2 linked regions of the Homo sapiens genome follow. The protein of the gene in region 1 interacts with the protein of each later gene in a pairwise test. Each region holds a gene or a part of one and is shown in the gene's direction. Other genes may lie near its edges. The genes, in order: LAG3 and FGL1.

What was found.
Region 2: the proteins of LAG3 (region 1) and FGL1 interact in binary tests that used the Homo sapiens proteins (3 or more experiments, as listed by UniProt).

What each region holds. Positions count from the first base shown.
Region 1 is NC_000012.12:6,775,464-6,779,230, forward strand, and holds the end of LAG3 (lymphocyte activation gene 3 protein isoform 1 precursor), read left to right. Parts: coding exon 1-85; intron 86-1,800; coding exon 1,801-2,043; intron 2,044-2,327; coding exon 2,328-2,458; coding exon of another isoform or gene 2,459-2,544; intron 2,545-2,780; coding exon 2,781-2,927; 3' UTR 2,928-2,992; downstream 2,993-3,767. UniProt on the Homo sapiens protein: Lymphocyte activation gene 3 protein: Inhibitory receptor on antigen activated T-cells. Delivers inhibitory signals upon binding to ligands, such as FGL1. FGL1 constitutes a major ligand of LAG3 and is responsible for LAG3 T-cell inhibitory function.
Region 2 is NC_000008.11:17,881,720-17,885,650, reverse strand, and holds part of FGL1 (fibrinogen-like protein 1 precursor), read left to right. Parts: intron 1-79; 5' UTR 80-96; coding exon 97-159; intron 160-3,471; coding exon 3,472-3,652; intron 3,653-3,931. UniProt on the Homo sapiens protein: Immune suppressive molecule that inhibits antigen-specific T-cell activation by acting as a major ligand of LAG3. Responsible for LAG3 T-cell inhibitory function. Binds LAG3 independently from MHC class II (MHC-II).

The sequences.
Region 1 (3,767 bases):
CAGGCCCAGGCTGGGACCTACACCTGCCATATCCATCTGCAGGAACAGCAGCTCAATGCCACTGTCACATTGGCAATCATCACAGGTCAGCCTCAGGTGGGAAAGGAGTAGCTGCCCTCCCAGGGTAGAAAGGACAGGGAGGAAGGGCTGGCAGGGCAAAGACTAGGCAAACCCACCCTGTGATGCCAGGCCACTGGGCACAAGTTCCAGAGCCTGCCCATCTCGGCCCCCACTTTTCTCACCCCCATAATAAAGAAACGAAACTGAAAATCTCCTCTTGAGTCACAAGATAAAAGTTCCACCGTTCTCTATGGGACTCCCCTGCTCTCAATTGGCGGGAGGGTCTGGGAAGTTAGAAGGAAAGGTGACAAAAATTCTGAATGGTTCGAAAGAGGTAGAATATATTTCTAGAATCCTTGTCTACTTTGCAGCCAGGGCTTGGGTTAGAGTTGCAGGAAGTGGCCTGGATTTGGGAGGAGTGAATAAATCCGTCCCTTGGTCAGCAAATATTTACTGAGCAAGGGTTTTCCAAGACAGTATAAAACAAACACAGAAAAAAGAATACTCAGAGAGTATGTGTTGACTGGTTGATAACTATCGGCCATGACAGATTAGCCATGTCTGCAGCACGCACCTGCGGCCACTCAGTAGTAGCACCCCACGGCAGGTGCTTAATAATGTATAGAGATTGAATGAATACGTGAACATGCTAATGGATAATACATCTCCTGAAGGCCAATCCTGAGTTTTCACTTGCTTTCTGGATACCTCTAACTAGATGTTATACCACCTCTCAGCCGCCTTACCCTGAACCCCAGCTTTTTCTCCCACCAATCCCCTTGCTGACTCAGCCTGTCAGTAATCCACTGGTATCCATCCACCTCGAAACCTGGCCTCCTCCTCTCTACATCCCATCAGTCATCAAAGTCCACCAGTTCTTTCTGTCCAATGCCCTCTTGAAGGTCAACTGTTTTATGTAGACGGCTCAATGAGAGAGATACTGTTACCCCGAAGACTTTCTCAAAACAGCTGGGAAGTGCCAGACTCTGGGTCTAAACTCAGGTGTCTGCATCACCAAATCACTCTCCAGGACACTACTCAGATGCCCTTCACCCTTTGTCTCCTCCCACCCACCCATCTCTCACTTTACAACTTGGAGAATGCTCTGTCTCTAGATGAATGGGTCAGTTCCCTGTTCTCTATACCTTCAGAAAGGGGGATGATGTTCATTCAGGGGGCACCACAAGGCAGGGGACACTGATGTGAGCCGCATCATGGAAGTTCCAAAATTGTGAAGTAGATGGGGGTCAGCTCATCTGACTGATTTTGAGGGTTCTGAGCATTTGAGTAGAAAGTAATGTAAAAGAATCTGTAATAGTATTTATTCTGTGGTCTGCCAGGGCCAGTTTGAGTGTGAAGGCAGTAGGGAGCCTGGAAATGTTTTGAGCAGGGGAGGGAGCTGACTAGAGCATTGTCTGAATAAGATAAATGTGGCCGGCAGGGCATGATGGCTCACACCTGTAATCCCAGCACTTTGAAAGGCTGAGACGAGAGGAGCACTTGAGTCCAGGAATTCCAGACTAGCCTGGGCAACATGGTGAAAACGCATCTGTATACAATTTAATAAAAAAATAAATAGAAAGAAAAAGATGAACGTGGCCATGACCCATGATGTCCTTCCCCAACCTCCCCTGGCCAGAACCCAAGTGAGTGCAGGGTGATTGAGACTTGGGGTTCAACCTGTGATATCACGTAAGGGGGGCAGAATCCCAAAAGATCTCTTCCTTCTACTCTTTTCAGTGACTCCCAAATCCTTTGGGTCACCTGGATCCCTGGGGAAGCTGCTTTGTGAGGTGACTCCAGTATCTGGACAAGAACGCTTTGTGTGGAGCTCTCTGGACACCCCATCCCAGAGGAGTTTCTCAGGACCTTGGCTGGAGGCACAGGAGGCCCAGCTCCTTTCCCAGCCTTGGCAATGCCAGCTGTACCAGGGGGAGAGGCTTCTTGGAGCAGCAGTGTACTTCACAGAGCTGTCTAGCCCAGGTCCGAGGCCCCAGAATGCCAGGACCCAAACGCCACAGCAATAATCTTTATCCTCCTTCCAGAACAGCCCCTGCCACCCCCATCCCAGCGCTTTTCTTTCCAGTCAGGGACCTGATCTCTGGCTTTTGCCTAGGGTTGACCCGTTTCCGCCACTGATCAGCTGAATGACCCTGGGACAAGTCCCTTAAACTCTCTGGATCTCATTGCATCTGTAAAGTCTGAGAGAATGACAAAGTGTCCTTTCTAGTCCTGACCCTATGCCTCATCCTGTACTTTCTCCATAGGTGCCCAACGCTCTGGGAGAGCCCCAGGTGCCCTCCCAGCAGGCCACCTCCTGCTGTTTCTCATCCTTGGTGTCCTTTCTCTGCTCCTTTTGGTGACTGGAGCCTTTGGCTTTCACCTTTGGAGAAGACAGGTGAGCCAGGGACATGGCAACCCCGCCCCCCAGCAGCTCCCGCTCTTCCATCCTCAGAGTGCTGATGGCACCCCTTCCTCAGGAAGGTGACCAAATGGGACCCTGAACTTGCCCTCAGAGCCCCCCTTCTTCATAAGCCTCTCACTCCAGGGATGGCTTGTGCCTGGGTAGGCTGGAAGGGGGGTTGGGAGAAAGCCAGGACCAGATGGGGAGGGCAGGGGCGCTGAGAAAAAATAGAGGGACTCAGTGTCCCTCCTCATCCGCTTCCCTTCATCCTTCTCCTCCTTCCGCCCTCCGTCTCTCTCTCCATCTCTTCTCACAGTGGCGACCAAGACGATTTTCTGCCTTAGAGCAAGGGATTCACCCTCCGCAGGCTCAGAGCAAGATAGAGGAGCTGGAGCAAGAACCGGAGCCGGAGCCGGAGCCGGAACCGGAGCCCGAGCCCGAGCCCGAGCCGGAGCAGCTCTGACCTGGAGCTGAGGCAGCCAGCAGATCTCAGCAGCCCAGTCCAAATAAACTCCCTGTCAGCAGCAAGCCTGAGTCTGGCTCTTTCTTGTCCAAGTGAAGGTTCCCGTCTCTCCCCAGCCTCTGAGGGCTCCCTTCTCCCACCCTAGCCTCCTAACCTACTTTCCCCAGCCAGCCTCCCTCACCTTCCCCTTTTCTGTTTCTGGCTGCTTCGTGTTTCTTTCTTGGTCTCTCTCTCTCTTGCGCTCACTCTCTCTTTCTCTCTCCTGGGTAATCATTTCTCTGAAGCTCCCCCGAAAAAGCCCTTGCCCCTTGCCTCCGCAGCTCTCTCCTCCGTCCTTCCACCCACCTTCCACCCACAGTGCGCTGGCTGCCCTGGTTTCCTTGATATTTTTGTCCTTTGGGTCCACCCCACCCCACACTCAGCTGCACTTCAGCACTTGTCCTTGGCCCTCCGGCTGCAGCAGATGCGCACATATGCTCGCGCGCACGTGCACACACACATGCACACACACGCGCGCGCGCACACGCACACACACACACACACACACACACGCGCGGCGCGCAGAGGACTGCCTTGTCAAGTCTTCCAGGAGATCCGGTCTGGAAACCTCTCTGGGCAGCCGGCTGGGGCTCCTACCTCTGCCCCACCCCCCACGTTCCTCAGCCCTTGGAGGCTTTTCTGGTCCCAGGCATGAGAACACACTGCCACCCAGTGGTCACTGCTTGTCACACCCCAACGGAGGTCACTGGGCCGGCTGCGGCAGGCCTGAGGAGTTGAGCAGTGCAGTGGACAAGGCAGGGCACAGACTGCTGTGAATGCAGGCACCGCCTTTGTATTATG
Region 2 (3,931 bases), on another chromosome or scaffold:
GGAGCTACTGAAGTCTGAACTCTGGTCTCATGAAAAATTCAAGGTTGATACATTTATAAAATTCTTTTTGTTCTTGCAGTTTTTTCAAGGGGGAACATGGCAAAGGTGTTCAGTTTCATCCTTGTTACCACCGCTCTGACAATGGGCAGGGAAATTTCGGTAAGCTTCTTGGGAAAACTATTGTCATATTTATAATGCCTGCTTTTATCTGAATTTTCTTTCATTTTGCATTAAACCTATAGTGACTTGTCATTGAAAAAACTTAACTATGTGGGAAAAGCAAAGAGGCTGGTAGAAATACTGGACACATAGTAAAGCAGCACTTTAAAGCGCTTTACATTTTTGCAGGGGAGGCCGAGATGGGTGGATCACAAGGTCAGGAGTTCGCAACCAGCCTGGCCAATATGGTGAAACCCCATCTTTACTAAAAAAAATACAAAAAATTAGCCGGGCGTGATGGCACGCATCTGTAGTCCTAGCTACTCGTGAGGCTGAGGCAGGAGAATCCCTTGAACCCAGGAGGCGGAGATTGCAGTGAACTGAGATCATGCCACTTCACTCCAGCCTGGGCGACAGAGTGAGACTCCATCTCAAAAAAAAAAAAAGTGCTTTACATTTTTTTAAATAAAAAGTATTCATAATAAATAAGTAATTTTTAAAAATTCACTGGAGTTATTTGGTTGGAATATTAGAAATTTGAAACTGTCCATAGTAATTAAAATTAACCTTGAGCTTTTCAATATTGAAAAGTGTAAAACTAACCAGATTATTTGAAAGTAATTACATCGAACTTGTGTTGTCCTTCATTTGTGAATAAAAAAGACAAAACATTCATTCAAAGTTCTTGGAGAAAGAAAACTCCTAGGTTTTAAATAAGCTTACTAAATATGCGTATGCAATCTCATAAAGATTGGGCATACTTGACCTGTGATGTCTTCAATTATTTTAAAATTGCATAGTGCACTATGTTTAACAATATCACAACCGATCCCCCACTGTTGTAAAACAACTCAGGACCCAGACACCATAAAATGTTCTTGCTGTTCATTTTTTAGCCTATGTGACTCAAGGTGCTAAGCAAATAACTATCTCAGAAGGGATAAATCTGAGTGTTAGGGATAGAGTAACAAGAACAAATAAGAAGTAATCCTAGAGAGGCCTGGTGCAGTGGCTCACGCCTGTAATCCCAGCACTTTGAGGGGCCGAGGTGGGTGGATCGCTTGAAGCCAGAAGTTTGAGACCAGACTGGGCAACATGGCAAAACCCCATCTCTACTAAAAATACAAAAATTAGCTGGGTGTTATGGCACACAACCTGTATAGTCCCAGCTACTTGCCAGGATGAAGCACAAGAATCGCTTGAACCAGAGAGGCAGAGGTTGCAGGGAGCCGAGATCGCACCACTGCACTCCAGCCTGGGCAACAGAGCAAGACTCTGTTGAAAGAAAGAGAGAGAGAGAGAGAAGGAATCATCCTAGAAAAATGGCTGGGAGAGGTTCTGTGACTTGGACCTAGGGATGGGAAGAAAGGAAAGAAAGAAAAGAAAAGAAGGAAGGGAGGGAGGGAGGGAAGGAGAAAGAAAGGAAAAGAACAAAAGAAAAGAAAAAGAAGAGGAGAAAGAAATCATTTTAGAAAAATGGCTGGGAGAGGTTCTGTGACTTGGACCTAGGGATGGGAAGAAAGGAAAGAAAAGAAAGGAAGGAAGGAAGGGAGGGAAGGAGGGAAGGAGAAAGAGAGGAAAAGAACAAAAGAAAAGAAAAAGAAAAGAGGAGAAAGAAATCATCCTAGAAAAGATATCTGGGAGAGGTTCTGAGAAAGGAAACGTAAGGGAAGAGGAAGGGAAAGGGGAAGGGGAAGGAAAAGGGAGAAACCATCCTAGAAAAATGGCTGGGAGAGGTTCCATGACTTGGACCTAGAGATGGGAGGGAGGGGAGATGTACTACATATATATATATATAAAAAATATATATATATTATAGACTATATAAATATAAATGTATTATATATGCATATGTATTTGATATAATATATACTATATAAATCCATTATGTAATTTTATATATACGTATATTATGTATAAATATAATATATTATATAAAGTAGACTATAATATAATAAATACAATTATATTACATTATATTATATATAAATATATTTAATATATTATATATTATTTATATTTATATATTATATAATATCTATTCATTTATATTCATATATATTCATATTATATATTTTGTAATATATATTATATATTATTATTATATTGTATATTATTTTATATATTATATATTATTATTATATTATATATTATTTAATATATTATATATTATTATATGTTATTTAATATATTATATATGATATATATGATATATTATTTAATATATTATATATGATATATATTATATATTATTTAATATATTATATATGATATATATTATATATTATTTAATATATTATATATGATATATATTATATATTATTTAATATATTATATATGATATATATTATATATTATTTAATATATTATATATGATATATATTATTTAATATATTACATATGATATATATTATATATTTAATATATTACATATGATATATATTATATATTTAATATATTACATATGATATATATTATATATTTAATATATTACATATGATATATATTATATATTTAATATATTATATATGATATATATTATATATTATTTAATATATTATATATGAGATATATTATATATTATTTAATATATTATATATGAGATATATTATATATTATTTAATATATTATATATGATATATATTATATATTATTTAATATATTATATATGATATATTATATATTGTTTAATATATTATATACTATATATTATATATTGTTTAATATATTATATATTATATATATTATATATTATTTATATGCATATATAATATATATAATATATAATATACATTAAATATACATATTTAAAAGTATTTATACCAGACAGCCATTCAAAAACCTCATTTATTATGGAGATTTACATGCCAACAGTACAATTAACTTCTATAAACCACATTACTGTTTAGAAAACACATAAGCAATGTCATATAGAGATTGAGAGCACAGTCCTTGAACTGAATTTGAATCCCACCTCCGCTTACCCACTGGGCATCAAGACTGAGCCCTTTCCTACCGCATGGAATTGTTATGAGGATCAAAGGAGACAACTATAAAGCTCCTAGCATAGCGATTCCAATTATTTTATATTATTTGATCTTTTGAGTCCAGGAGTTTTCGCATAAGCCATAATTTCCAATTCTTCAAATAGTAGGCAGTATTAGAACTTTTCAAGCCACTTTCTCTTTGGAATAATATTCTGAAATGGGAACTGGAGACAAAATGGAATCACTGATTTATCCAAATGTTTAAAAAGCACTTGTTTTCCATGAAAATGAGGTGCATACTCATCTCATCTCACCTGTTTTGCAGGCGCTCGAGGACTGTGCCCAGGAGCAGATGCGGCTCAGAGCCCAGGTGCGCCTGCTTGAGACCCGGGTCAAACAGCAACAGGTCAAGATCAAGCAGCTTTTGCAGGAGAATGAAGTCCAGTTCCTTGATAAAGGAGATGAGAATACTGTCATTGATCTTGGAAGCAAGAGGCAGTATGCAGGTCAGAATGGACTTTTCTTAAGTGTTTCTATAACTTACATTATGCACCCATGTACAGTGATGGTGCTAGTTATTTCAGGCTTTTCCTATTTCAGTAACAAGCAATATGAAGCATTATATCTATTGTAAATGTCTTCTTTCACACTTTACTTTTTTTTTTTTTTTTGAGGCGGAGTCTTGCTCTGTCGCCCAGGCAGGAGTGCAGTGGTGCAATTTTGGCTCACTGCAAGCTCCGTCTACCAGGTTCACACCATTCTCCTGCCTCAGTCTCCCGAGTAGC